Linked DNA regions of Homo sapiens. The protein of the gene in region 1 interacts with the protein of each later gene in a pairwise test. Each region holds a gene or a part of one and is shown on either strand. Other genes may lie near its edges.

The links.
Region 2: the proteins of ZNF490 (region 1) and VWC2 interact in binary tests that used the Homo sapiens proteins (3 or more experiments, as listed by UniProt).
Region 3: the proteins of ZNF490 (region 1) and GLRX3 interact in binary tests that used the Homo sapiens proteins (3 or more experiments, as listed by UniProt).
Region 4: the proteins of ZNF490 (region 1) and CEP70 interact in binary tests that used the Homo sapiens proteins (3 or more experiments, as listed by UniProt).
Region 5: the proteins of ZNF490 (region 1) and MTUS2 interact in binary tests that used the Homo sapiens proteins (3 or more experiments, as listed by UniProt).
Region 6: the proteins of ZNF490 (region 1) and NDEL1 interact in binary tests that used the Homo sapiens proteins (3 or more experiments, as listed by UniProt).
Region 7: the proteins of ZNF490 (region 1) and ZRANB1 interact in binary tests that used the Homo sapiens proteins (3 or more experiments, as listed by UniProt).

Annotation. Positions count from the first base shown.
Region 1 is NC_000019.10:12,603,936-12,608,292, reverse strand, and holds part of ZNF490 (zinc finger protein 490), read left to right. Parts: intron 1-4,357. UniProt on the Homo sapiens protein: May be involved in transcriptional regulation.
Region 2 is NC_000007.14:49,779,668-49,784,024, reverse strand, and holds part of VWC2 (brorin precursor), read right to left. Parts: intron 1-4,357. UniProt on the Homo sapiens protein: BMP antagonist which may play a role in neural development. Promotes cell adhesion.
Region 3 is NC_000010.11:130,166,927-130,171,283, reverse strand, and holds part of GLRX3 (glutaredoxin-3), read right to left. Parts: coding exon 4,304-4,357; intron 1,852-4,303; coding exon 1,794-1,851; intron 1-1,793. UniProt on the Homo sapiens protein: Together with BOLA2, acts as a cytosolic iron-sulfur (Fe-S) cluster assembly factor that facilitates [2Fe-2S] cluster insertion into a subset of cytosolic proteins.
Region 4 is NC_000003.12:138,496,695-138,500,759, forward strand, and holds part of CEP70 (centrosomal protein of 70 kDa), read right to left. Parts: coding exon 4,041-4,065; intron 3,874-4,040; coding exon 3,705-3,873; intron 3,531-3,704; coding exon 3,416-3,530; coding exon of another isoform or gene 3,403-3,415; exon of another isoform or gene 3,190-3,402; intron 1,417-3,189; coding exon 1,337-1,416; coding exon of another isoform or gene 1,170-1,336; exon of another isoform or gene 642-1,169; intron 634-641; coding exon of another isoform or gene 569-633; exon of another isoform or gene 216-568; intron 1-215.
Region 5 is NC_000013.11:29,025,850-29,030,206, reverse strand, and holds part of MTUS2 (microtubule-associated tumor suppressor candidate 2), read right to left. Parts: coding exon 3,304-4,357; intron 1-3,303. UniProt on the Homo sapiens protein: Binds microtubules. Together with MAPRE1 may target the microtubule depolymerase KIF2C to the plus-end of microtubules. May regulate the dynamics of microtubules at their growing distal tip.
Region 6 is NC_000017.11:8,456,048-8,460,404, forward strand, and holds part of NDEL1 (nuclear distribution protein nudE-like 1), read left to right. Parts: intron 1-3,961; coding exon 3,962-4,113; intron 4,114-4,357. UniProt on the Homo sapiens protein: Required for organization of the cellular microtubule array and microtubule anchoring at the centrosome. May regulate microtubule organization at least in part by targeting the microtubule severing protein KATNA1 to the centrosome.
Region 7 is NC_000010.11:124,979,668-124,984,024, forward strand, and holds part of ZRANB1 (ubiquitin thioesterase ZRANB1), read left to right. Parts: intron 1-1,557; exon of another isoform or gene 1,558-1,661; intron 1,662-2,041; coding exon 2,042-2,162; intron 2,163-3,507; coding exon 3,508-3,637; intron 3,638-3,791; coding exon 3,792-4,021; intron 4,022-4,357. UniProt on the Homo sapiens protein: Ubiquitin thioesterase, which specifically hydrolyzes 'Lys-29'-linked and 'Lys-33'-linked diubiquitin. Also cleaves 'Lys-63'-linked chains, but with 40-fold less efficiency compared to 'Lys-29'-linked ones.

The DNA.
Region 1 (4,357 bases):
CAAAAACCACAAATTTGGAGTCATGTTTACTTGTTTGCATAGTTTGGACAAAACGATCACTGCAGTTCTGACCTTCAAGGTAAACATGCAAGAGACGGATAAGGCACGGGTTAGTGTCGGGGGTACCTAATTTTGTCATTGCTATCAGTTCCCTGATCTAAGTGACTCTGTAATCCCAACACTTTGGGATGCTGAAGTGGGAGGAATTTCATGGGGAATGACTACAGCCTTCATGCATGTGGATACATAATCTGAGCCTGAATATGTCATCTTCACATAAAACCACGATTTGGTTATTGACTGTTCTGTGAATCCTGGGTTCCTTGGCTCATGGGAGCTTCAATGTGGCTTTTCTGGCCAGGAACTTGCCTGACATTTTCAATAAGCCAATCCTTAAGTTCAGCATGCTGGTATTTTTCAGTGTCTGGGTCACCGTCCTTCCTGTCTACCAAAACCCGAAATGGGGAAGCTATCAATCCTGGCCTCCACTGATTTGCTGCTGCTTCTCTGTCTGCAGATGCTATGCTGTTCTTGTTTGTTCCTTTTTTTTTTTTTTGAGACAGGGATCTTGCTGTGTTGCCCAGGCTGGTCTCAAGCTCCTGGCTTCAAGCAATTCTCCTGCCTCAACCTCCCAAAGTGCAGGGATTACAGGTGTGAGTCACTATGCCTGGCCTGAGTTTTCAGTTTTTGACAGTGCTCAGTATATGTGGTGGCACACATTTGGACTTTAATACTGAGAAGTTCCATTATTATTACTGTTATTATATTGTATTACTATTACTATTATGTTCTGTCACCCAGGCTGGAGTGCAGTGGCAAGATCACAGCTCACTGTAGACTCAACTTCACAGGCTCCCTAGTAGCTGGGACTAGTAGCTGGAACTAGGACTAGGTGTGCGCCACCACGCTTGGCTAATTTTAAAAAAATTCTTTTTTTAGCCAGGTGTGGTTGTGCACATCTGTAATCCCAGCTATTTGGGAGGCTGAGGCAGGAGAATTGCTTGAACCCAGAAGGTGGAGGTTGCAGTGAGCCGAGATCATGCCACTGCACTCTAGCCTGGGTGACAGAGTGAGACTCCACCTCAAAAAAAAAAAAAAATTTAAATTTTTTAAATTTTAGAGACAGGGTCCTGCTATGTTGCCCAGGCTGATCTTGAACTCCTGGACTCAAGTGATCCTCCCACATCAGCCTCCCAGTGTTGGGATGGTAGGCGTGAGCTACCACACCTGGCCAATTTCATTATTACTTATGAGCCATATGAGTTTAGACAAGACTTTGTGCTCTCCATACTTAACTTTTTTCATTTGCAAGATGGGAGGTATGATTGGGTGGGGCTAATCAAATGAAATACTAATGATTATGAAATCACATTAGTCACCACAGTGATGTGCAAACATAAATTATTGAAATATTGAATAAAAATGGGATTTTATTTGTTCTTTAGTAAAACACAAAGCTGTTCATTTTTTTTCTTTCCTAACATGTGCTGGAAATCTACCATATGGAAATGATACTTGTGAATGGTCATGGACTTTTAGGCCTTTGCTGATCATTAAAATAAAAATCTTCCAGTGATTCCTTTTATAAAAGGACATCAAAGCCTGGGCAACAGAGTGAAATCCTGTCTCTATAAAAATAAAAAAAATTGGCCAGGTGCAGTGGCTCACACCTGTAATCCTAGCACTTTGGGAGGCTGAGGTGGGTAAATCACTTGAGGTCAGGAGTTCAAGACCAGCCTGGCCAACATGGCGAAACCGCATCTCTACTAAAATACAAAAAATTAGCGGGGCATGGTGGTGCACACCTGTAGTCCCAGCTACTCAGCAGGCTGAGGCAGAAGAATTGCTTGAACTCAGGAGGCAGAGGTTGCAGTGAGCTGAGATCATGCCACTGCACTCTAGCCTGGGCAACAGATAGAGACCCTGTCTCAAAAAAAAAAAAAAAAAAAGAATTACCCAGGGTGGTGGCATGTGCCTGTAGTCCCATAGCAGAGATCCCTTGAGTCCAAGAGTTGGAGGCTACAATGACCTATGATTGTGCCACTGCACTCCAGCTTGGGCAATAGAGTGAGTCTCTGTCTCTAAAATGAAAAAAAAAAAAAATCCTATTTTAGGCCAGGCGCGGTGGCTCATGCCTGTAATCCCTGCACTTTGGGAGGCCGAGGTGGGTGGATCACCTGAGGTCGGGAGTTTGAGACCAGCCTGACCAACATGGAGAAACCCTGTTTCTACTAAAAATACAAAATTAGCGGGACGTGGTGGCACATGCCTGTAATCCCAGCTACTTGGGAGGCTGAGGCAGGATAATTGCTTGAACCCGGGAGGTGGAGGTTGCGGTGAGCCAAGATCATTGCACGCCAGCCTGGGCAACAAGAGCAAAACTCTGTCTCAAAAAAAAAAATTAAATTAAAAAAAAATCCTATTCGAGGGTCTCAAATACACTTTTCTTAAAGGGATAGGAAAACCATTAACAAAATATTTAACAGAATACTTCACTTCTGGTCCACCAATAACCACTTCTCAAGCAGACACCAGCTGGGTGTGCTATATAATTCAATTTAATTGTGACAGTATCTACCTGGAGACGGAGTCCAATACCAAAAGCTAACGGCTCACAAGAATGCCCCTCACTGCAAATGTCAGTTGTAAGTCCCAGGATGTGACCTATGCTTCTGACCAACAAGCTGTAAATCAGGGTTTTCATGACCCACTCTTTGGGTTTGATTAATTTGCTGTAGCAGCCTACAGAACTCACAGAAACACTTTACTTACATTCACCCATTTATTACAAAGTGTTTTTTTTTTTTTTAATAGAGCAGGGTTTCACTCTGTCTCCCAGGCTGGAGTGCAGTGGCAGGATCATAGCTCATTGCAGCCTTCAACTCTTGGGATCAAGCGATCCTCCCTCATCAGCCCCGCAAGTAGCTAGGAATATAGGCATGTGCCACCACACTCAACTAATTATTTATTTTTTGTAAAGTTAGGGTCTCGCTCTGTTGTCCAGGCTAGTCTCAACCTCCAGGTCTCAAGAGATCCTCCCACCTCGCTCCTCTCAAAGCACTGAGATTATAGGAGTGAGTCACTGTGCCTAGTCTTACAAAGGATATTTTATTATTTATTTATTTGTTTACTCTTTATTTTGAGACAGGGTCTCACTCTGTTGCCAGGCTGGAGTGTAGCAGCACGATCTTGGCTCACTGCAACCTCCATCTCCAGGGTTCAAATGATTCTCGTGTTTCAGCCTCCCGAGTAGCTGGAATGACAGGCATCCTCCACCACGCCCAGCTATTTTTGTATTTTTAGTAGAGAAGGGGTTTCACCATGTTGGCCAGGCTGGTCTCGAACTCCTGACCTCAAGTGATCCATCTGCCTTGGCCTCCCAAAGTGCTGGCATTACAGGTGTGAACCACTGCACCCAGCCTACAAAGGATATTTTATTTTATTTATTATTATTATTATTTTTTTTTTGAGACGGAGTTTTGCTCTTGTCGCCCAGGCTGGAGTGCAATGGCGCGATCTCAGCTCACTGCAACCTCTGCCTCCCAGGTTCAAGCAATTCTCCTGCCTCAGCTTCCCAAGTAGCTGGGATTACAGGCGCCCACCACCACGCCTGGCTAATTTTTTTTTTTTTGAGATAGAGTCTCACTCTTTTGCCCAGGCTGGAGTGCAGTGGCACAATCTTGGCTCACTGCAGCCTCTGCCTACCAGGGTCAAGTGATTCTCCTACCTCAGTCTCTCAAGTAGCTGGATTACAGGCCCATGCCACCATGCCCAGCTAATTTTTTTTCTGTGTGTCTATGTTTTTAGTAGAGGCAGGGTTTCACCATGCTGGCCAGGCTGGTCTCGAACTCCTGACCTCATGATCCGCCCACCTTGTCCTCCCAAAGTGCTGGGATTATAGGTGTGAGCCACTGCACCTGGCCTAATTTTTGTATTTTAAGTAGAGATGGGGTTTCATCATGTTGGTCAAGCTGGTCTTGAACTCCTGACCTCAAGTGATCCACCTGCCTCAGCCTCCCAAAGTGCTGGGATTACAGGCGTGAGCCACCACACCTGGCCCTACAAAGGATATTTTAAATGATACGAATGAACAGCCAGATGAAGAGATACCTCCAGGCATATGGTTATGTTCTTATTTACCAACCAGAAGGCTCTCTGAGCCGTGTTTTTGGGTTTTTATGGTGGCTTTATTATGGTGACATGATTAATCACATCATTCACTATGGGTGATCAACTCAACCTTCAGTTTTCTCTTCCCTCCCTGGAGGTGGGGACAGAGCTGAAAGTTTCAAAGCTCCAGTCACATGGTTGGTTCCCTGGCAACTAGCCTCACATCCTGTGGTTTGTAGGAGCTTTC
Region 2 (4,357 bases), on another chromosome or scaffold:
AGGAAAGGAAGGAGAGGTCTCATGTTTAAAGCATCATCACTTTTGCTATTCTTGGATACTTGGAAATGTGCAGAGCCACCTGGCATTTTAATTTCTTTTCTTTTTTTTCTTTATTTTATTTTATTATTATTATTTTTTTTAGAGACAGGGTCTCACTATGTTGCACAGGCTGGTCTTAAACTCCTGGGCTCAAGTGATCCTCCCAGCTCGGCCTCCCGAACTGCCGGGATTATAGGCATGAGCCACTGTGCCTGGCCATGGAGTTTTAATTTTCAAGCTCTATGCTTTTCCACAGGCCTAAGGCTTCTGAGAGAACTCACAGGGCCCTCGGCAGAGGCCTGACATCATCCTTTTCCACAGATTTGAAAGGCAGTCTATGTCCTGGCCGCACCCCAGTGCCCGACAGAAATAGAATGAGAAGTATGATCCAGCTGGCAGGATCTCAGCCTTGGAACAGACAAGCAGTAAGAAGGATTTCCAGCTACGTGGTCAGAAAAGTACCATGAAGGATGGTCACAGGGTAGGTAGGCCTGGGTGGGAAGCCATATCCTTCATGCAAACTCACAGTTGTTACATTTGATACACTCTTTTCTTTTCCCTAGAACATCTGGCCCAGGATTCCTCTGTCATTTAAAAACAAGCCATCAACAACAGTGGAGTCTATTAATAATAATAGAGTGGCTTCTACTGTGTGCCCCCTTGACCCCCTGACCCAAGCTCTCACAGTGCCTCACACACCACACTACTGCTGCCTGTCTCCTGGAGGGGGCCATTTACTTCCCGTCACATCTCTAGGATGCAGCCCAGGGCCTCACACACATGGTGTCCTAAATATTTTCAAATAAATGTAAGAATAATGTTTCCGTTGGGACTTATCAGATTTAGAGATATCATCTGAGGAGGTAATGTTTTATGGAAAAGCAGCTCCATGGAGCCAGTCCCTAATGATTAGAGGTTCTACAAGAGTCCTTCTAGAGACCAAAATCTGGACCAGGGCGTGGCTACCTCCCCCTGAGCTGCACACTCTGCAGAACTTGTCTAAATATCCACATGAACTTTGTTCAGAGCTTTACAGGTTCAAATTGCTTTCACATACATCTTATTTACTTCTTATAATGGGAGAGGAATGCAGAATACTATCCACTTTTTTTTCTTTTCTTTTCTGTTTTTTAAGATGGGGTCTTATGCTGTTGTCCAGGCTGGAATGCAGTGGCCCAATCATGACTCACTGCAACCTCAAATTCTTGGGCTCAAGCCATTCTCCTGCCTCTGCCTCTCAAGTAGCTGGGTCTACAGGTGAGCACACCAACATGCCTGGCCTTTTTTTTTTTTTTCAATTTGTTGTAGAGATGTGGCCTCACTATGTTGTCTAGACTGGGCTTGAACTCCTGGACTCAAGTCATCTTCCCACCTCAGTCTCCCAAAGTGCTGGGATTACAGGGATGAGTCACCACACCAGGCCCCATTATCTTTTTTTTTTTTAACCACTAGAAAACAAGGCTCTGAAAGTTGTCCAGGGAAGCACTGGATAAAACAGAACCCCATTCACCCCACCGTTCAGATGATAAGTACCCTGTCCTCAAAGTCCCAGAAGCTGATTCTCCACCAAAACTGAAGAGGAAAGGACTGGAGAGCATGGGACCTGCTTTCCTAAACCTCCTCATGATATCAACTGCCTGTATGATTTTGGAGGGGGCACTAATTTTCTAAGGTGAATTTTCACTGCCTATGAACAAGAGGCTTTTCAAAGTCATGTATTTATTTACAGGAGCATGGGTGAATCACACATCTGCAAGGGGGGTGTGGTCAGCTGGAAAACAAATGCCCTCCCAAAGGGGCAGCCCTGCCCAGCTCTGACAGATGGCTGCCATCTGGGAATCATTTCATTTTTGTAAGAATTAGGCAATCTGGGAATTTATATGAACCTCCCGCTTGTCAAATACAGGCACTAGTAAACAAATGTTTTATATGCCATGAGCCAAATAGAATACCTCCTAGAACCAGATCTTCCTCTTGGGCCACCTGTTGCCCCACATGGGTCTGATAATCCCTGGAGTCCTACCTGCCTCTTGGGATCTAGTCTTCTTTTCACTGCCCCCTGGACTCATTCCCCCTTGCTCTCAGGGAAATCCTGGGACTAAGTGCTTTTAGTCCCATTACGACTCAAGACTTCATCCTTTGAAGGACACAGACATTATTTTGTTCATCAGATGGCCAAGTCAAATATGACAAATCCATGTAAATAAATGCTTAGCCAAGTGGATCAAGCATTTATTGGACATACATATAAGCAAGGCACTCTGGGCTTGTATAACTTTTCCTTTTTCCGGGTACCTGAAATGTTCTCCACCACACGCAAAATGCCACTTCATCACCATATGGTCACGAAGACACTATGCACGATCTTCAGAGTCCAACACGCTAGGATTCAAATCCTGTCTTCACCATTTACTAGCTCTATGACCTTGATCAAGCTATTTAACTTTTTCGGACCTTAGTTTTCTCTCCTTTAAAAATAAAGAAAATACCACCAACTCAGTCTGTTGTGTAAATTACTCCAGAAAAGCCAATATATAAAAAATATTGGCACTAGATAAATATTGATTCCCTTCTGCCCACTGTAAAAGATTATGGTGTTAATTCTATCATACTTCACATCAGATATTGTATGGAACATGCAAATAAGCAGTTTTTAAAGCTGTGTTTCCCCCACCTGAGTTAGGAACACATCTAAAGAGTCTAGATATGGCATATGACTCCCTCTTTAAAAAAAAAAGTCACTGTTTAAATGGCTTTAGACACAAGGGTAGAAAATGAGAAGTAGAGAATTTACAAAATCTTACTCAGAACCAAAACAAACTCAGAGACAGCAACAGTACATGCATTAGCCTGACTTGCAGAAAAGAACACAGATTGACTCATTTTACTTAGTGAAGGTGGATAATAATAGCATTGTTTTCAGTTAAGTAACATCAGCCAAAAGAATATAAATACCATTAGACTGAAAAGTGTGAATAACCGTAGCTTTCTCTTTGCTGGCACTTTCTCATAATTGATATAGAGATCTATTTAGATGAAGGTTTTGATTCCAAATTTCATGTTCAAATTTTTTTAATTGATAAAAACCTAGAAATAAGATTTTGCAGTGGGGTTAATGGCAAGTCAGATACGGAGGCAGTCAGAGAGAATTTGGTTTAACTCAGTGGTCCCAAATCATTTCACCTCCAAGTACCCCTTCCTGTTATCTCTCTCTCAACAGTTCTTATGCTTTGAAAGACAGTCTAGTAAGCTTCACTTATTAATAATTCATCTTCCCTTTTTCTTCAAAGACTTATACAATTGCCAATCAGAGCTCCTGATCGGCTACGATAACCAGTGTTGACACACTTTGCTGATATCAATCCTACCAAAAGCAAAGAAATGTGAAGATTTAGTTATCCTGTATGGCCCTATTTCAGAGTCACAAAAATTCCATTAGGTTTTATAAAACATGAAATAAGCTTGCAAACTCCCCTTTCCACCATCACAGTCCTCCAGGAGACCAAGATTCCCATGATGAAAACAACTTGTTTTGTTGAGCAAAATAGAATGATTTTTTTTCAATTAACACATTTCAAATGTGATTTGCTTCTGAACAAATCATGTGGCCACTGAGGCAAAATTTACAACTGCTCAATACAGCCCCTCTCCCTACCCTTAGTCACCTTTTAGTTTTCTGTGACACAAGGATCCATTCACATAAGTAATACAGGAACTCCTAAAGTAGCTCTCAGAATGCAATAGACACAGAATCAGAATGGTCAAGTTGAGCCCCTCAGTTAATGTTCATTGGCATACACTTCATCACCACTCACTCCGTGCCTTCGTCATAAGCACTGTTTTCCCATCATGTGTGCTGATGCATCCTCACACACCCCACTGTTACTACCTCGTTAGGTCTGTTTTAGGAAGTCAATTTTGGTCATTGACACTATGTTTTGGGCTAACCTGTGTGCTTCTACAATTCAAATTTTGAAGTCCTCACGCCAGTAGCTAAGAATATGACTGTCTGGAGACAGGTCTTTAACGAGGTAATTAAGTTAAAATGAAGTCAGGCCCCAATCCAATATGAGTGTGTCCTTATAAGAAGAGGAGATGTGGACACAGACAGATGCAGAGGGAACACCATGAGAAAACACAGGAAGAAGATGGACATCTGCAAGCCAAGGAGAGAGGCCTCGGAAGAAACCAGCCCTGCTGACACCTTGATCTTGGACTTCCAGATTACTTGGAAATGTGGAAGTCTGAAAATCTTGGATTTCCAGATTTATTCCAAGACAACAAATTTCTGTTTAAATTACCCAGTCTGTGTTACTTT
Region 3 (4,357 bases), on another chromosome or scaffold:
CTACAGAGATTTGAGTTCATTGTTTAATTCACTCATGCAAAATGATCTTAACTCACTTAGCCTTTTTGCAATGATTATGACAATTATTTTCCCATTTCCAACTGGATTCTGACTCCCATTTTTCTTTTTATTTTATTTATTTATTTATTTATTTATTTATTTTTTGAGACAGAGTCTCACTCTGTCCCCAGGCTGGAGTGTGATCTCGGCTCACTGCAATGTCCACCTCCCAGGTTCAAGCGATTCTCCTGCCTCAGCCTCCCGAGTAGCTGGGACTATAGGCATGCGCCACCACGCCCAGCAAACTTTTTGTATTTTTAGTAAAGATGGGGTTTCACCATGTTAGCCAGGATGGTCTCGATCTCTTGACCTCGGACCTGCCTTGGCCTCCCAAAGTGCTGGGATTACAGGCATGAGCTACCGCATCCAGCCTCATTTATTTTTACATTACAGAATACTAACACTTTTTTGAGTTTATGAAAATCTTAAGCTTTTTTCATGCCACAGGACTCCAAATTCCAGCAATCTTGTGGAAAAGATATGGTACCATGTCAACATTTTAATAGCCCCAATAACATTGTTTCCAAAATGTATTAATACTTTCTAGGTTTCCAGAAAAAAATAGTTTTGAGAATAAATATCCACTTAAACCATTACCGAGAATAAGAAAAAATGTCACTTTATCATTACTAGGAATTATTAACTTCCTCTATTGTTTCAATACACTGAACCAAAATCAAAGAATTTAGGCCCTAACCTAATGTTTCCAACATGCTGAAATTTATATTAACATTTTCTTTGTTACTGTTACTTTCATTATTACCTAATTATATTAACCAGTTATGTTAACTAATTAGCTTCATTATACTAGTTATGTTAACTTATACACTAGTTATGGCAACCAGAGTCTGCCCTGTGAAGTATTGTGTCCCTTTCCCAATGAGCAAAGTGGTTCTCCATGTCACTTGCCCGGTGCATCTTGCTAACAAGTGAGGCAGTTTCTTTATTCCAACAGCCTCACCTTTCAAAACTTTGGTTTCTTTATCTCTAAAACAGGCCAAAGTCTGTCCAACCCTGCCTACTTCAACAACTGATTGAGAATTAAGTAGAGGTTCAATTGCTATGAAAATTACAAAATATGATATAAATGTGTATGGCTGGTTTCTGGAAATTACCACTCTGATCTCAATCTGAAAGAAAATTAGTTCTGCTCAAACTATCGGTGGAAGTAATCTATCAAACTTGATATTCAAAATGACGCATAATCAATATGTACTTACATCAAAAAGCTGTAAGAACCATCCCATTAAAAATGAGAATTGCTGACCATTTCACTCATTCATCAAACACACAGAGCACACCTGCTACAGCCAGGGTTTGCTCCTCCACTGTCACAAAAGGACGATCTAGGGGTGCAAACCCAAGCACGACCAGGTTCCCTGCATTCAGGAAGTCCACTGACTCAGCTGCACACTTCAGCAGTCCACAAACTCAAACAAAGGATAATGACATAACAACTCATACAACCAGTAAAGTGTTAACAGTGTTGACCACATTAGCTGACAAAGTTTGGCAGCAGAAAGAAATGCACCCCACTGAGATGTTGATGATAAAGTCAAGCAAAATGTAGATTACTTTGTTTGATCTCCGTAAGCACCAATTAAGGCGTGGATAACTTCCTGATATCGCTACAGCTTCATTAGCTAAAGCTAGGAAAAAGATTTAACTGTCCCCTTGTTGCAGATGTTAACATCAAAAGAAATTACAAATAAAACCATTTTTGAGTTCTTTACCTGTTTGTTTCCTTTCATAAAGAGCATCACAGAAGCTTTATTTGTCAGCACTTTGAGCCTAAAGAGAGAAAATTGATATAAAACGGCTCAGCTCAATTATGCAACACCACTTTTCCTCCGCTTCGTGAGTAACATGCATATTTGAGGGATGGCAGGATGACAGTTCACAGCTTTGAGTGGTATTAAACAAGCAAATGCGTTGACATTTTCCTTGATTTCATTCTCTCCCTAAGCCACTGTAAAACACAATATGGCTTTTAAGGCAACGAATGTTCCTTCAAGTTGCAATTTAAGCCCATCAACTCACAGTAATAAAAAAATAATAATAATAACCAATTCAGTAAGGAATTGTTCAATAAGGGGCCTATATATTAAGCCCATCCAAAACTTCCAGAACTAGATCTTGTGTGCACCATCTTCCATCATGATGCTGCATACCACTGTACACGTGTAAAGCTCACAAGGTCGGACTGCAGGGTGACAGCGTTAAACCTCAGAACATCAACTAATGCCAGATACTAAAATCAAATTCTCTCATCTTAACATGTTTTATATTTTATATAGTCTTTCAAACATCATAATCTAACATGCTGTCAGGAATTTTAATTATCTGTATACAGCCACAAGTTTAGTCACAAATCTCAAGAAAAGTCAGTGCTGGGACAACGGGTCACTAAAGAACCTAAGCCCCATGGGGTCACGCCACCATGTTCTCCCAATTCACAGCTCAAAAATCTCCTTAGAGGTTGGGCGCGGTGGCTCACGCCTGTAATCCCAGCACTTTGGGAGGCTGAGGCAGGTGGATCACGAGGTCAGGAGATCAAGACCATCCTGGCAAAACACGGTGAAACCCCGTCTCCACTAAAAAGTACAAAAGAATTAGCCGGACGTGGTGGCGGACGCCTGTGGTCACGGCTACCCGGGAGGCTGAGGCAGGAGAATGGTGTGAACCCGGGAGGCGGAGCTTGCAGTGAGCCAAGATAGCACCACTGCACTCCAGCCTGGGCTACAGAGCCAGAGTCCGTCTCAAAAAAAAATAATAATAAATATCCTTATAAACTCATCCCAAATGAAATGCATCAATCACGCACAAAGCTGTATCACTTACATTGCCAACCGAGTGGGATTAGCTCAAGTTCAGAAAAATATGAACAGATATAGGAATACAATGCTGACCCTGACAACCCAACTAACTAACCCAGTCACCTGGATACAGGGAACCACAGCTCACAAAGTACTGCCAAAATACATGTCACAAGTCCATGAACTCCACTTCCTACACTCTGCTCACTCGGAGCCCTTTAAATTATTACTCCAAATATGCTGAATTTTCCTTCCGACATAATTCTAGCCCGTTACCCTTTGGTGTCTGCAAGCACAGATTTAGAAGCAGCACATTAGGAAACGGAGGTCTGATGGAGACAAGGCCATTAACAGCGGCAAGTGCACTCAGCAGAGAAGGAAAATCAACTGAAGAGCAAATACAAGCATATAAAAAACACAGCTGTCTTTGGAGACCACACAGCCTCCATGGGCCAAGGGCATCACCAGGCTACAGGCAAGAACCACACATGAAGACGCCCAGAGTCAAAAAAGGGATGAGGAGTATCATTTTCTCATGAAGAACACAGGAAATGGTACCAACCACAGGACAGAATGCGGCACTCAAAGATCAGCCTGACATACGTGGATTGGACGCTGTTTATAGAAATTATTAATTAACGACAGACAAATGAGGTATTTATTATTATTAAACACTTTTAGAAATTCTCAAGATGTTACATGGCAAAAAAAAATTACCAAAGGAAGGTTTATCTTACAATCTCCAGCCCCAACTATGAATGGCTGATTGCTGATATAATAAATTCCTTTTTAAAGTTCTATATTAATTTTACTGCAATAAAAATCCCATTAAGTTGCCTTACACACCAAAGTCCAACATTTCTGTAAGAGAACGTCTCTAAAAGCCAAGTGAGATCCTTGATAAAACAAATACATGTTTCACACCTCCAAAATCTGTTCATGTAAGTTCTCGTGGTCTAGAAAGGCCATGAGAAGTGCTCAAAGCTTGTTGCGAGGTGATGAGTTTTTCACACTCACCACTTGTCACTCAGTGCTCTGGCGTTGGGGCAGCACCCGCAGCAGTCACCAAGGCTGCACCCAGTAAAACACGAGTGTGCTGAGGTTACGCCAAGGAGCAGTGACAAAACAACTGGACCCTGGCTCTGAAATGCAGAGAGGTAAGCAAAACTTGGTTGTTCCACAGAAACAATGACATTTCTATAAAAGCAAAGCAGATCCTCCACATGATCACTAAGTTGGTGCTAAAATTTCTCCAATACAAATTAGATTTGCCAAAGTTTGAATGGCTAATGTGACTAAACAATTATGACGTCTGGCATACCAAATCCTTGATTTCTACACAGAAAGAGCAATGCAAAACCTGAGGACTTTAAAATATTTTTAATATATTAAATGATAGGCTATTTGAAACCTTCTAAAACACTTACCTTTCCTCTAATTTGGGAGCTTTGGGACAAATTGTATCTAGTTCTTCAGATGCT
Region 4 (4,065 bases), on another chromosome or scaffold:
CACCTATTAATTAAAAAAACTGTCATGTTTGCCAGATTTAACTTTCCCAATGTTAATGTTTAACACCAGAACTTCAACTTTGACCAAATTACAGAATTCATCTCCAGAGAAACCTGGCTTTCTGAAGCAAATGATCTTTATGAACCATGCTGAGTGTCATAATATCTGAAAGGAAGTTTCTATAGAAGCATTCTGAAATAAGTGTTACCAGCACACCCTATTAAAATATGTTTATTAATGTGCCAAATATTTATGAATGATGAGAACATCACTGCTTAAGTTAATAGCAATCCCAAAGCAAGAATCATATTATTCTATGAAACCAGGCTCTTCAGGATATCAGACAACACACTTATACAGTTTCATACCTCATCTCAAGTTTAACTTTCAAATTACATTTTCACTTGCTGTGATCTTTTTAAACATGAGGACAAGCCTAAAGCAAGCTCACTCATTGTCTCCCTTGCTTCCCCACTGCACATAAGACTGGTCACAAAACTTCCTTTATGTTCAGTAGGCTATATATTCTAATTAGATACTTCTTTCACTTATTCTTCTTATCAAGTTTTCATTGACTCATTCCCTTATTTTCATACCAAGCTTCATCTCCTCTTCTAAAAGCAAAGAGCCATTCTTTAAAAAAAAAAAAAAATCTTTCAAATGAGCTATACAGAAAAAATTCACTGGTGAATACATCACTTTAAAACTTTAAAAATCATTCTTAATAGTAAGATAAATAATTTTATAGCCATATGTAATTATATTTAAACTAGATAAGGTCTCTATTTTGCCTTATGAGTCCTAAGCAAATTTTTTCCTTTTAGGAGACACTACTACTAATGAAGCCCTCAATCTGACCCTCAGTATAAGTGTAATATTTCATCTTTTCCTTTCCACAGATATTTATGACTTTATGTTACTTCATATAACCAGAGAGGAAATATTATTTGTATATTTAAAAAATTTTGTAGATAGGTGGTATCTTAAGAAAAAAAAAGGAGGGAGGAAGGACCTTCTAAGATCATAAATCCTAAGAATATTTCTCATTAGACAATGACAGAGCCAGGGTTAAACTAGGCATGGACAGAATGATGCCATCTCTCATGATAAGGTCCTCCAACAAAGGTAGTTCCTATTGCTGTTAAGGGTCTGTGTTTCTGTTCTATGGACTAATCCAAACAAACTCTAACTGCTTGTAAGGAATGTGTTTCCAGAACTGTTAGTGGTTTCCAACCACTAGGTAAAAATACTAATCCAGTGACCAAGGAACACCCTTTTCTTAAATGCACTGACATTTTAAGACTCAAAATTTCACCATCACCACCAGAGATCTTACCTAAGATTTCAAGTAGATCATTAGTAAATGCCTGAAATGCTGGGAAAAATTCCTCGTGTTCTTCCAATTTGTAGATAATGCTGTTTAAAAAATGCACAATTTAAACCTGATTTCTAACTTTGGGTTCTTGCATCTGATTGCAAACAGAACATTTTCAAAATAGAAACTATATTGCTAATTTAAATATAAACTTAATGATCATTTACTACAGTCTTTTCTTTCTGAGCTTTTTGTTAATCCAATATCACTTTTCTTAAAAAAGCATTTCAATATCAATGTAAAATTTGTTAAATTCATATATAACATTCTTTTTTTTTTTTTTTTTGAGACAGAGTCTTGCTCTGTCACCCAGACTGGAGTGCAGTGGCGCTGTCTCGGCTCACTGCAAGCTCCGCCTCCCGGGTTCACGCCATTCTCCTGCCTCAGCCTCTCGAGTAGCCTCCTGTAGTGCCTGCCACTACGCCCGACTAATTTTTTGTATTTTTAGTAGAGACGGGGTTTCACCGTGTTAGCCAGGATGGTCTCAATCTCCTGACCTCGTGATCCGCCCACCTCGGCCTCCCAAAGTGCTGGGATTACAGGCGTGAGCTACCACGCCCAGCCAATATACAACATTCTTAACATGGCAAATTTCCCATTAAGCTCAAGGCTTCTTAGATCATGCTTTTACAGCATTTTCTAAAAATAATTGGCTTTTACACCCAGTATCCTATTAAACATTAAGAAAAAATATCAGGCTGGGCACAGTGGCTCATGCCTGTAATCCCAGCACTTTGGAGGCCAAGGCAGGAGGATCACTTGAGGTCAGGAGTTCGAGACTAGCCTGGCCAACATGGTGAAACCCCACGTCTACTAAAGTACAAAAATTAGCTGGGTGTGGTAGCGCATGCCTGTAACCCCAGCCACTCAGGAGGCTGAGGCATGAGAATTGCTTGAACCTGGGAGGCGGAGGTTGCAGTGAGCTGAGACTGAGCCACTGCACTCCAGCCTGGGCAACAGAGTGAGACTCTGTCTCAAAAAAAAAAGAAAAGAAAAAAAGAAAAAAAATCAGTAGTCAGTAAAACTGTGGGAAGGAAGAAATAGGCCAATAGCAAGATATATGTTCCTTTTAAAAGCACCAAGTGTCAGATTATGTAAGGGTTCTTCTAGGAAAACTTGCAAAACATATGGTTTATGTGGTATATATTGTGTGTTTCCCTTCACATATGCTGTAATATAAAATTGGGGGTCAGGTGTGGGGAAAGTTGCTTTAACTATAGCTACAATGTCTTGATATTTTCTAAAAATACCAGCTTTTATGTTATAGATGCCTAGTCTTTTAAAAACTCCTCAACATTTATCTTCTAATCAAATAAATATACTATTAATGATTATTCAGTGGTCTATGGTAGTGTCCTAAAAATAGAACTTATTGATATAATCAGAACTTACATGATGTTGCTAACAAGGTTTGAATTTCTCCATATATAATATTTCCTGAAAACAGGCTTATGCTGAAGAGTACCTGACCTTCTTTATAGGCCTTACAATCTATTTTTATCTTGAAAATATTTGGCATTTCCTCCATCCCTAAGGGTTTGAGATTATCTTAGATTGTCAAGTTACTTAAAAGATGCTATTCCAAGGCTGGGCATGGTAGCTCACACCTGTAATCCCAGCACTTTGGGAGGCCAAGGCAGGCGGATCACTTGAGCCCAGGAATTTGAGACTGGTCTGGGCAACATGGTGCAACCTTGTCTCTATCTCTCTCTCTACACACACACACACACACACACAAATTAGCTGGGCGTGGTGGCGTGTGCTTACAGTCACACACACACACAAAAGATGCTATTCCAAACAGGGAAGGTAAATAAGTTTTGAAAGTCTTTAATTTCACCCCTCCAGGAACTCTCGATAATACTTATTTTAATTTTTATTGTTTAGAGACAGGGTCTCACTGCCTTGCTCAGACTGGACTTAAACTCCTGGGTTCAAGTGATCCTCCCACATCAGCCTCCCAAGTAGCTGGGACTACAGGCGTGTGCCACCACACCCAGCCATTCTGGATGATACTTTGTAAACTTTTAAAACAAATACCTCTGGAGGTCTTCAGGTCCTAATACCTGCATAACCTGCTCATTCACATCTTCATTAATCAGCCTACAGAGTTTTCCAACAGTGCTTACTAGCACACACAATGAGGATGAACTATCTGCAAAAGAGAAATAAAAGGATATTTTAACAGAGAATTTCCAAAATTACATACATCAAACATTTTATGCTTCAGTTATCCTCAATTTTTCACTTAAACATTTTTTAATCTACTTTTTGTTAATTTATTAAAAATTCTTAAATGGGGGCCCAAAATGACAAATTAGGTCATCACCTAATTCTAAGAGTTCTTGGAGGTTTCTCACAGCATTGTTCATTTCTCCAAGCCTAGTATAAACTTCATTCATTCGGGGATAGACTCCATTTAAAGAAGGCACATCAAATAACTTTTGGAAGTGAGAAACAATAGCTTGCAAAGTTTGAAAGTGTGGCATATTGCTGTCCTGTCCAAAAAAGAGGTAAAAAAGAAAGAGTTCATTATCTTAAAATAATCCCAAATAAAAACTTTTAAAAGACAAATAGAACTCTAGTAGAACAAATATCAATATCCACAATTTATCAGTTTTTGAGATAAGAAACATTAGAAGGTGACCGTTCATGTAGGTATTACCTTTTCCTTATTTTCAACTTCTTCC
Region 5 (4,357 bases), on another chromosome or scaffold:
GTGCCTAGATAATGAAGTAGAGAAAATAGTTTGGGGAAAACTATGCATGTAATATATAAACTATTCTTGGAGGAAGCAGAACAACACAGAAAAGAAATATACACGAAAATATAGAAGGGCACAAAGAAAGAATTACAGACAATGTGGGGTTTGGGCCTACATATCCAAATCAATTTCCCTCATGAGTTTGTTTTTATAGAGAAAAATCTAGGCTCTGGCTATGGTTTGGATATGGTTGGCTTGTCTGTGCCAACTCTTATGTTGAAATGTGATCTCCAATGTTGGAGGTGGGGTCTAGTGGGAGGTGTGTGGGCCATGGGGGCAGATGCCTCATGAATGGCTTGGTGCCCTCCTTTTGGTAATGAGCAAGTTCTTGCTCTATTAGTTCCCATGAGAGCTGGTCCTTAAAGAGAGGCCTGGCACCTCCTCCACTCCCCTCTTGCTCATCTCTCACCACGTGATCAATGCACACGTGGTTCCCCTTCTTCTTCCCCCTTGAGTGGAAGCAGCCTGAGGCCTCACCATAGGCAGATGCTGGTGCCATGCTTCCTCTCCAGCCTGCAGAACCATGAGCCAAATAAACCTCTTTTCCTTATAATTTACCCAGCCTCAGGTATTCTTTCATAGCAACACAAATGGACTGACAGGTCTCTTCATGGAACCTCTGCAGTGATTCCCTGCCTTATAGAAGAGCAAAGCTTCAGAGCCTGACCCTGAGCCTCAGAGGCCCAGGTGGATGAATGTTTAGAAATTTGAAAATGACTCACTATAACTAAACTCAGAGACTGACGTAAAAATCCAGAAGGGCAATTTGTTCACTTTTAATTGGAGACCACTGCCTAAAGCCAGACTCAAGTGTCCTCTAGCCAGAACACGTTCTCATTGCAGGGCACAGAGTAAGAAGCCACTTATAAACAAGATGCCATGCAGCCCCGCACAGCAAGACAAACCCCTGCCAAGCTGACTGGACCCCTGAATTCTCCAGCCAGAATCCTCTCTCTAGAGATGTGAGGTAGGAAGTCCGTTATAATCAGAGGCCTGTTGGCAGGCCCAGAGTCAGAACACAGGGAGCAAGCTGTGTGATTTGGTTGCTAAGGACCTGCGGCAAGGCAGCACAGCTGGTCGGCTTGTTGGGGCACCTCGTCAGTGATTGCCTAAGTCAATGTCTGCTGCCGAGAATGGATTCAACTTTGTCTTTGTGCTAGATATGACAACTTCTGTTGTGATTGATGCATTCTTTAAATATGCCAATATATCTAACCAAGCTAGAGTCCAAATTTGGACTCAATCATCCTATCTCTAGAAACCCTTGGTACACTTTTGTTTAGTTCCAACACATATGGAGTTCATGATTCAGTTATCACTCAACATTTTTTGAGCACATACTTATAAGAAGCACCATTCTAAATTCTGGGAACACGGGGAACAAAATATTGAAAACAATCCCTTCCCTCATGGAGTTTACATTATAGTCAATTCAGGAAAACTAAAAAAGTATTTATGGCAGGTGGAGGTAGGTGCTAGGAAGAAATAAATCAGAGAAAAGGGATTCAGAGAGAAGATGGGTGGCCTTCCCAAGGAGATAACATTGGAACACAGACCTAAAGGGAGTGAGGGAGAGAGCCATCTGGATAACTGGGAGAACATTCCAAGCAGAGGGAGGTGCAAAGGTCCTGAAGCAGCAGAGTGAGAAAGGGAGAGTGGAAGGAGAGGAGGGCAGGTAGCTGACGGACCCCCAGTGAGCACATCCCATCCTAAAGGCAGAGCCATCCTACAGGCTCCAGCTTGTGTTCCAAGCAACCTGGGCAGCCCTGGAAGGTGTTAGAGACAGGATGATCTCATCCTGCCCTTGTTTTTGAGACTGAGTCGCGCTCTGTTGCCAGGCTGAAGTGCAGTGGCGTGGTCTCAGCTCACTGCAACCTCCACATCCTGGGTTCGAGCAATTCTCCTGCCTCAGCCTCCCCAGTTCCTGGGACTACAGGCACATGCCACCACACCCAGCTAGTTTTTGTATTTTTAGTAGAGACGGGGTTTCACCATGTTGGCCAGGATGGTCTCGATCTCCTGACCTTGTGATCTGCCCATCTCGGCTTCCCAAATGCTGGGATTACAGGTGTGAGCCGCTGTCCTTGGCTCCTGCCTTACTTTTAACTGATCACTCAGCTGTCATGAAGAGACTCCTTCAGGAGACAAATCTTAGTTCTGAGGTCTCGAAGGATGACTCACCATAGCTAAAAAGGACAGCACAGTGCAGTCTGAAACTGCACAGGCCTGAGTGAGACTCTCAGAGCTCTCCTTCCTTTGTGGTGGGTGACTTAAAGCTCTCTGTCTGTCTCTGTATCTATACGGTGATAAAAACTGCAATACCGGCTGGGCGCGGTGGCTCACGCCTGTAATCCCAGCACTTTGGGAGGCCGAGGTAGGCGGATCACGAGGTCAGGAGATCAAGACCACGGTGAAACCCCATCTCTACTAAAAATACAAAAAAGTAGCCAGGCGCGGTGGCGGGCGCCTGTAGTCCCAGGTACTAGGGAAGCTGAGGCAGGAGGATGGCGTGAACCCAGAAAGTGGAGTTTCCAGTGAGCCGAGATCGCGCCACTGCACTCAAGCCTGGGCGACAGAGCGAGACTTCATCTCAAAAACAAAGAAAAAGCCAAAAAAAACATAAACAAACAAAAAACTGCAATACCAACCCTCAGGGAATTACTGCAAGGATTAGTGAAGATTAACAAAGATCAAACGCTGTATTATATGGGCCCAGTGTAGAGCTGGCCCTCAATTATATGTTAGTTGTAATTATTACTTTTATTTTAAAGAAAGAGTCCATGCCTAACACACCGTTTTCTGCTCATTTGCTGTTCTTCACGCATGCGAATAAGAGATACTCCCAGGTAGAAAATACTCCCCATTGAGGAATGAGTCTGATCTATTTGAAGAACACAGTAATTTTGCATTCTTTCTTCCTTTAACCTGGCTTATATTATATTATATTCACTTATTTAAACATGGAAGCCTATTTAAGGCATACTCATCTAATTTCATATGAATTATAGCAAGTGAAATTTAAATGGGTCTCCTTAGATATTGGGTACATCTTATTAAGATAATCAGACTCTTCTAGTTAAAAATGGTCATTTCTCTAGACAATCTCCTCTAGTCAAAAACTCCATTTCTTCACAAGTGTATCCATGAAAATCTGTAATTCACTTAAAGAGGACATTTTACTTTCATAACTCATTGAAAATATGTCACAGATATTGGGACAGTCAACTTATAGACCATATCATAATGACATTCTCTTACCTCCTGCAAAAACTTTTCACTCATTTGACTGAAAGGATGTCCCGGGGGCTTGATTCCAGACACCATCAATCCGGAACTGAAGACCCTTGGCTTCTGCAGGTCTGGCTTGAATTTCTCATAGAGGTTGGCAGATGGCTTCAGGTCACCACCTGCTGCCTTCTCTTCGTGGGGAAGAGGCATGGTACATGTGGGCGGGGCATATGGAAGCCCCACTGGAACCAGCGAGGCGTCCACCTGGCCCAGGGCCTGGGGATTCCTCCTGATGTAGGTGATGATCTTGGGCCTCACATGCTTGGGCTTGGGCATAATGATGGGCTTAGTTTCTGTCCTCTCCTCTGTTTTTTCAACCTGATAGTTCTCCATTCCCTCCTGCGAGGAAGGTGTGTCCTTGGAATGTGTGAAGACAGGCTTGGGGATCCCACTGGGGCAAGTGTTCTTGTCAGGCACTTTGGGGGACGTGTTCAACAAGCGTGCACTATCAGTAGGGGGTGGAACTACCAAGGGGGACCCCGCATCCATACCGAACACGCTAACATCCTGAAAACTGCTACTGGGTGTTGTAGGCTGGTAGGTCATGTTCACAGTTGTCTCTGGGTGGAGGGGTGCTGGAATATTGAGAACTGAATCTGCTCTTGCTGAGGTGCTTTCAATCTTATCTGCATTCTCTAGAAGGTTCCTGTTTTCAGCAACAGATGTGGTGACCTCTTTGCTTTCCCGTGCTTCTGAGCGGCCACTTTGAGGGTCCAGGGGCTCAGGCACCTCCGTCTTGTTCTCTCCAACAGAAGGATTGAACACCAAAACCATAACACTGTCCTTATTCCCACTGCCCAACCGCCTTTCCTCCTCAATGACATCCAAGGGCTTGCTGTCAGTCAGATTATTAGGAATAAAAGCCACATGACTGTCACCTGGTGAAAAGCTGCTGGATGTCCTTTCACCCAACTTCTCACCTGCACATGGTGAAATTTTGCCAGTGGGCTGATTATCAGCCCCTCCTAAGGAAGCAGAGCCCTGTTTGGGGGTGGTGTGGAGAGAATCCTGCTCCCCTGGGTTG
Region 6 (4,357 bases), on another chromosome or scaffold:
TGCCATTTCCCACTATCTACTACCCCCTTCACTTATTTTCGTGTGTGACACTTTCTAAAAAATGTAGAAATTGCATTATACTTTATCTAAAGCAGATATGGGAGGCCAAGACACAGGTCCTATGTTTGCCTGTTTCAGCTCATCATAGGGGTTATTTTCTAACCATCAGATTAAACCTGCATTTTTAAGGTTAAAATACAAAGTAAAGTGCACAGGTCGTTCCTACAGTACATAGAGTAATCTTTCTTCACTCCCAAGATAACCATTTTAAAATCCTCTATGTTGGAGTATTTGTCTTTATAACTTGAAATCATGTGCTTATTTTTCTGTTTATCTTGATTTACTCAACTTTAAGCAAAGATATTTTTATTTTTATTTTTTGTTCTTTTAAAAAAATTACTTTAACATTCTTGAACTTTTGTTTCTGAATGTATTAGGTTATATCTTTTTTTTTTTTTTTTTTTTTTTGAGAACGGAGTCTCGCTTTGTTGCCAAGGCTGGAGTGCAGCGGCACGATCTCAGCTCACTGCAACCTCTGCCTCCCAGGTTCAAGCGATTCTCCTGCATCAGCCTCCTGAGTAGCTGGGATTACAGGCACATGCCACCACACCTGGCTAATTTTTGTATTTTTAGTAGAGACGGGGTTTCACCATGTTGGCCATGCTGGTCTTGAACGCCTGACTTCAGGTGATCTGCCTGCCTTGGCCTGCCAAAGTGCTGGGATTACAGGCATGAGCCACCATGTCTGGCCAGTATTAGACTATATCTTAACTCGCTGTTCTCTCCCTTTCTTCCCCACCACACTCCCACTCCGCTTTCCTTTTCTGAGCCCTCTACTAGCTGTGTGAGCTCTCTGTTGGTTGGTTCTAAAAATGGAAAAGTAGTCAAACAGCATTTGTAACAATGCACATATATGTGTTATTTACTGTGTAATCACAGAGGAGATGCTGGACTTTCAGATGGGTCTTTATATTTGTGCCATTCAACAAATGTGTTTTGAGAATTTTGTTCTTTAACTGTAATTTACTCAAAATCATACTGGGTTTTTAAATATTTCGTATTGTAGCTGACTGTACGCTGCTTTCTTTTCCTAGCATTTCTGTTTCCCCTTCTTTCTTTTGAGTAGAAGAAACCTACACCTTTCTTTGCTCTCGGATCTTCTAGCTTCTTCTTCACACTCTTTGTGGGATGCCCTGATGGGCTTCGAGGGCTGCTGCATTGTTGTCGCCCTCGAATTTCTCTCCATTTTACTCTTGGGTTAGTTCTGCCTGTTCCTCACCCCACGTTGTTGTCTGTCTTTGTTCCTTGTTTGTTTTGCTTTAGTACTTTAATTTATTCAGAAGTGGTGCATGAAAGTTTAATTTGGCATCCTTGTATGGTTTACACATTCAGCTGACAATCCGTCTTCTAAGAGTTATCAAAATAACGACCTCCAAAAGTCATCAACACTTTGGGTCTGCTGGTGTCCACCAGCCCTTGTTGGCTTTTATGAATATTTCATTTATGCCTCTTTACACGACTTTGTCCACTGACTTGAACTGGAAGCCCTTCTCCACTCTTGCATGCCTTCACAGAGAAAATCAAGGCCATTTGTTTTAAGCTTCTTTGATTTCTTTTCTCATCTTTTGTTATTACTCTCCTATTATTACCTCTATTTGTAGCCATTCCTCCTTTTTGTCCCAGTGGTAAAAGTGCAAATTCCTGTCCGTGGCTAATTTTGTCCATCTGTGCTTTGGATCTCATTTCTTCCAACCCTTAAATCTTTATTTCTCCTGTATTTCAGCCTTTTACTATATATGCGTTAATATTTATGTATAATGTTTATGTATTACACATTATATGTTATGTGTTATACAGGTATACTTTGATATTTCTGTATTACATGTTATCCATATAAATATATGTAATACTTATGTGGTACATATTACATACTTTAAAGCTTCTTGAAAGCGTGTCCCCATTTATTGTTAGCATTTTGACTGCATGCACACGCCCCAGACACTTTAGCCTGGGCTCTGTCCCCTGCTTATGCCGCTAAAACTGCTCACTGGTGATCTCAGTGCTGTCAAATCCTGTGGATGCCGTTCTGTCCTAATTTTACTTGAAGCATTCAACACTGACCGTTTTTTTTTTTTAATGCCCTCTTTTCTCTCCTTCTCTGATGCTGTTTCATGGCTGCTCCCAACTTTCTTTCCATTCCTCTTAGTCATCTTGTTGGGTCTTCATCTGCTCACCCTTTCGATATTGGTTTTACTCAGAGTTCTGTCCTTGATTTTCTGATCTTAATCACAGCCATAGTTTCATCCACCCCTGGGTGTGGATGTCTTTCAAATCTTAATCTCTAGACCACCCTTTCCCCCCTCAAAAGACCTGGTGCTCGTGCTTGGATGTCTCACTGATGTCTCAGACATAAGTTGTGCCTGCCGTGTGATAGATACTCAATATGGATTTGAATGAATGCGTGTCTTGAATATAGGAATTGAATGGCTCTCAATTTCTACTGTGTGTGTGTGTGTGTGTGTAGCTTTAATAAGCTGCTGAATTATTGCTGAATTATGCTTATTCAGAGTTTGTTTTACAAGGTCATTACCTCTCTTCCTTTTTTCTGTTGTCATTTTAGTAGGTCATTGTACTTTTGTCATAGGAAAGAAGGAGAAGAAAAAAGTTTGTCTGTTTTTGTTGCTGTTTCTTTTTTTTGAGACAGAGTCTCACTCTGTCGCCCAGGCTGTAGTGCAGTGGTGCTATCAAGGCTCACAGCAATCTCTGCTTCCTGGGTTCCAGTGATTCTTGTGCCTTAGCCTCCTGCGTAGCTGGGATTACAGGTGCATGCCACCACACCCAGCTAATTTTTTTATTTTTTCTTTAGTAGAGACAGGGTTTTACCATCTTGGCCAGGCTGGTCTCGAACTCATGGCCTCAAGTGATCCACCTGCCTTGGCCTCCTAAAGTGCTGGGATTACAGGAATGAGCCACTGCACCCAACCATTGTTGCTGTTTCTGAATAGCTGTTATTGAAATGTGGGGGGAGGAGGTCCAAATGGATTCTCAAAGTGAAGTATATGTTACCTGTGGATTTAATTTAGCTGTGCATTCCCAGTCCTTTACTGTCATGGATAATAGACATGAATTGTGTATATATATATTTTGCCATGGATAGTATTTTTCTTTTCGGAGAAGGAGGGGTTTGATTTGGGCAAAGTGTTTATGGGAAAGAGACAGCTGGTGAAGTGTGAGTGTGTGGAAATACATGAGAAACGCCTGATCTCTCCATGTCATCTGCGTTGGTAGAGCCCTGTGCTTGCCAGGTGTTGTGGTGACAGGTGCAAAACAAGGGTGCCCAATTTAGAGGTAAATGCTAAAAGGCCAGTGTCATTTGCGGGTGAATTATTTAATTACAGACAAAGGGTATCAGTTAAACATTTTACAGAGTGCTGTCAGAAATAAAATAGCTTTTAATTTCATGTAAAGTGTTGTAAATGTTCTCATCCATTCTCATGCAGTAGAAAAAATGAAGAACCTAGAGAAAGAATTGGCTGCCGTAAAAAAAATTCTCAAGTGATATTTTTGGGTTTTTTAATAGTGCTTGCTCCCAAAACACACCCTGCCCCCCAACACCAACTAACAGTCTACAGCTTAGAAACGAGCAATGGATAGGGTCAAGAGACCTGGGATCTGCTGTTCCACCTCCTGTACCACACTTTTTTTAGTTGTAAGGGGAAGATTATATGTATTTCCTTCAGTAACGCTAAGAGGAGGAAACAAAATATTCTGAGGTCATTAGAAAGGGAGCATAAGTATTCCCCCTTTTTATTAGAAAGTTGATTGATTATGGCTGAACTAACCACCATTATCAACTGAGATGAGTAAGTTTTGAGGCTTGAAATAGAAATGGTTTGAAATGCAAATTTTTATGTGCAGCTACTGTTTTGACAACCATATCATTCCTCCTTCTTTTTTGTAGGCTTTAGAATCCAAATTAGCAGCTTGCAGGAATTTTGCAAAGGACCAAGCATCACGAAAATCCTATATTTCAGGGAATGTTAACTGTGGGGTGCTGAATGGCAATGGCACAAAGTTCTCTCGATCAGGGCATACATCTTTCTTCGACAAAGGGTAAGTCCTGAATGTTTTAAGTGATAATTTTTTGAGTAGTAAAGTGACAGGTTAGTAAGTGAGCATAATGAAGCCTTGAAAAGGTAAACTCAGCTTGACAAACCTTCCCGAAGCCTGTTATCATTCTAATCTTAGGTGACATGACGTCTGTTGTTGTCCTCTAGTCCCCATGGAGTCTGTTGCCCCAGGAACCCTGAATCTGAGGCTTCTGTCCTGGGAAGCAGACTCTTGAAAGGCAGCAGTG
Region 7 (4,357 bases), on another chromosome or scaffold:
TTTTTGTTTTACATTTTGAGGTCATTTTTGTTTAAAGTGTGAGATGTCCTAAATTCACCTTTTTGCATGTGGATACCCAGTTGTTTCGGTACCTTTAATTGAAAAAAACCCTTTCTACATTCTATTGCCTTGGCAATTTTGTCGAAAATTAGTTGACCATAAAAGTAAGGGTTTGTTTCTGGACTCTTAATATTTTTCTATTGATTTATTTTTCCACTGGGCTATCGTTATGTCATTACCAGACTGTCTGGATGATCATATCTTTGTAATACATTTTGAAATCTGGACTGTAAGTCATTTGACTTTGTATTTCTTTTTCAACATTGTTTTGACTATTTTGAGTCCTTTGGATTTCCATATACATTTTAGGATACAGCTTTATCGATTTTTGTAAAAAAGACAGCTGGGATTATGATTGGGATTGCATTGAATCTGTAGATTTAATTGGGGTGATGGTGGTATTGCCAGCTTGACAATATTGAGCCTTCCAATCCATGAACATGGAATTGAGTTTTGAATGTTAAACCAAACTGGTATTCCTGTACCATTTGGTCATATATTGCTGGATTTGGTTTGCTTGTCTGTTCTTATGGAGACTCTGGTAGTATCAGAGTTTAGGTCTTGGGGTGGTGAGGATGAACATTTTAACATGTTTAGTTTTAAAGTATATTTCATTGAACCTCCCTTCTTCAGTGGTCTTTGAAGAGTTTTGAGTGCAATCACCATTGAATTTCTGGCTGGCTTAGCTGTCTTATTTATAAAGTTATTTTAGGCACCAAGAAATTTCTAACTGCATATAACTTTCAGTATTGACAATTTCTCTGATATTTCTCCTTGAACTTTTCAAAACAATGTATTTCATCACTGTTGCCAAAATTTTCAAGACACATTTATCTTAGCGATTATAAAAGAATATACATATTTTAATTTTAAAACATTTGGAATTATGATTAAACATCCTCAGTTACGTGGAGTATGAAAAATGTTTTAAACTGAGTTAAACCTCTGGAACATTATATTTTAATTTCTTTAGGAAATATATTTACTCTCTAAGGAGCCCTTCATTAAATTACTGTAAAGTTACTTGTGACACCACCCATTTAACTTTTTTTTTCCCCCCGCAATATAGCCGGGGTCTCACTATGTTGGCCAGGTTGTTTTGAATTCTGGACCTCAGGCAATCCTCCTCCTTCAGCTTCCCAAAGTGCTAGAATTACAGGTGTGAGTTACCACACGTGTTCACGTTTAACTTTAATATGCTGAAACTTTTTAACAACAGGAACAGATTGGTCTTTTGTTTCTTTTACCTAGAATTCAGATGTATAGAAGATAAATGTGATGTTATAAACAGATTAAATGTCTGTCTGCATTTTAGAGGTCTTAGTTGGCTTGTTTTTATAAGACAGTGAACCATAATTTTGAGCATAATTATTTCTGAATTTTTATATTTGATAGACAAAGAATCGATGTGTTTTCAGTAATTCAGTGTTAAGCATAAAGAAGGAATGTTTTCTGTCATTGCAGTGGGTTTCTTTTTGGTTGCTTTTGAATTATTAGGTGATCATCAGAGAAATTATTTATGGAAAGAAATCTCAGGGAGATGATCTTGATACTATGAACACACGGAATATTTCCCACCTGTTGTTTATACAAGTGATCAAGTAGGTGGTGTACTATACATTGATAGAGAAATGTAGTGTCTTTGTATACAACATTTCAGATGACTTTTTTTTTTTTTTTTTGTAAACTAATTGTGGACAGTGGAAAATAACCAGTCTCATCATTAGCGTTTGAAGTTTGAAAATTTGGTTGTCGGTAAATCAAATTCTGACTAAAGATGTTAAAGGATGTTACAAGGTATCTGCTAGTGGAAGAGGGAGGCATTTTTCATTAGAAAAATACATTACCAACCAGACAAAATAAAATTATTAATTGTTTCACAGACTGCTTAAAGACTGCATTAAATAAAAATGATCAGAACTTTAAATGTTTTATTTATAGAAGACTATTTATTTATTTTTTTACTATCCTGCTTTTTTAGGTTTTACACACGCTGGAAAGATTGGGAATCATGGTATTCTCAGAGCTTTGGTTTACATTTTTCCTTGAGAGAAGAACAGTGGCAAGAAGACTGGGCATTTATACTCTCTCTTGCTAGTCAGGTGAGGATGCTTCAAGTCTTGTTGCTTCTATGAGAAAAGTAAGCATGTAGTCTAAACTGGTTTATTTGAGCAAACCATGTTGGGGGCAATGTGGTCAAAGAAAAGAATGCTTGACGTGGTATCATCAGTCAACTTGGGTTCTAGTGATGACTGCTGTGTATCAAATAAATAGCATCGCAAGTATAGATGAGCATCGCAAGTATAGATTAGCATCGCAAGTCCTCACTGCAGAGCAGGAAGAGTAACGTGTTTTTATATCGAATGATTAAAAACATCAAAAAGTGAAAGCTGTGCTATGACGGTTACATACAGTAGATAGTCTTGGGATTGCTCTCCGTTCCTGCAGCATAGGCTTGATGCCTATGGTACCTATCCAGGTGAGCTCTGTTCTGTCTCTGGGGACACTTAAGATTACTGGTGTAGGTACTTGCATTGCTGTTGCTGATCTGTCAGGCCCTGAGGAACCAGTTGTCAATCTTCATAATGCTCCCTGTGGTGAGGCAATACCTGTGTCATGTAGGCAAAGGAAAAGGGTAGTTTAGCTTACTCTGAACTAATTACCATCAATAGGAATGATTTCTGATTAATGTGGGAATGAAGTTTTGCAAGTTTGCTAACGTCTTTTTATTAATGAAGGCTGCTTGTGACACAGAACTGTGTAGGGTTGTCCCTTAGACTCTTGGTTTCATGCTTTATTTTGTGAAGCACTTCAGTATACCAAACTGTAAAGTACAAATATATATACAACTACTCCTTTTTTTTTGCAGAAAGCACCATGGTTCATTTGAACTTAGAGAAGGAGGTACCCGATCTTTGGGCAATTTGGGCAGGATTCATAGTGGTTGATTTACATGAGACATGTATCTCACACCATGCATTGTAGCTCGATGATGGACCCATTTAATATTAGTATTCACGAGTTAGTTGATACTGCCATTTACATTTGCATGAAACAGGCTCACTTATTTATTTCAGGAGGACTTTGTTGTAGGTAGTGCTTTCACAGTAACTTAACGAGAATGTGATAATAAAGCATCCTTAGTTATCTGAATCTCTGGTTCCTGAGGTTGGAGAGTTAGTAGTGAGGGATATTTCAAAGTATGTATGCACATCTGTATAATTTGTGAGTTTGGATGGTAAATGATATTTGCATGTAGCCTTTATAGATTTCTTTTACAGTTTTACTGGATTTATTATTTGAGGAATCAAATGCTGCTTTGACAATCTTTTCTTTCTTAAAAACCAACTGCGATAGTATACTGAAGGGGAGGTAGTATTGTTTTTTACACATCAGTTTTCCAGGAGTGGTAATAAATGTTTTAAGTTTTTGTTTTGTTTCGTACAGCCTGGAGCAAGCTTGGAGCAGACGCACATTTTTGTACTGGCACATATTCTTAGACGACCAATTATAGTTTATGGAGTAAAATATTACAAGAGTTTCCGGGGAGAAACTTTAGGATATACTCGGTTTCAAGGTAAGCCATTATTCAGGAACGTTTTACAAGTTTCTTTGAACGGAATGGCTCAGATGTCAGGAAGGAGCAGTGGACAGGGGAATGTGAACAAGGGCAGTGAGGGAGTGGCTCTTTCTTCCTGTGACTGTTGGGATTTTCTTCCCTCTCTTTCCAGGTGTTTATCTGCCTTTGTTGTGGGAACAGAGTTTTTGTTGGAAAAGTCCGATTGCTCTGGGTTATACGAGGGGCCACTTCTCTGCTTTGGTTGCCATGGAAAATGATGGCTATGGCAACCGAGGTGCTGGTGCTAATCTCAATACCGATGATGATGTCACCATCACATTTTTGCCTCTGGTTGACAGTGAAAGGAAGCTACTCCATGTGCACTTCCTTTCTGCTCAGGAGGTAAGCAGTTTCTCCTATGAACTATTTCTAGTAGTGACCTTGTACCAGAAACAGCCTGAAGTGCCTTTCAGGTGTGGTTTTATCTGCACTATCACTTAATTTCTGAATGTGATGGTAGTAATTGCTGAAGGTACTAGCTATACTTTGAAATTTACCTTTTCAAAACTGCTGTATGGGGACACATCAAGGAACTTAAGGTGGTGATGGGTTTTAAGAAGAAAAAGTAAAGATGAGGTTTGTGATTTAAATATGGCATTTTAGGGAATGAGAAGTGAGTTTTTATCTGAAAGCAGAGTTCCAAGAATTGCAAGGCCAGTGTGGTTTAAGAGGGGAAGC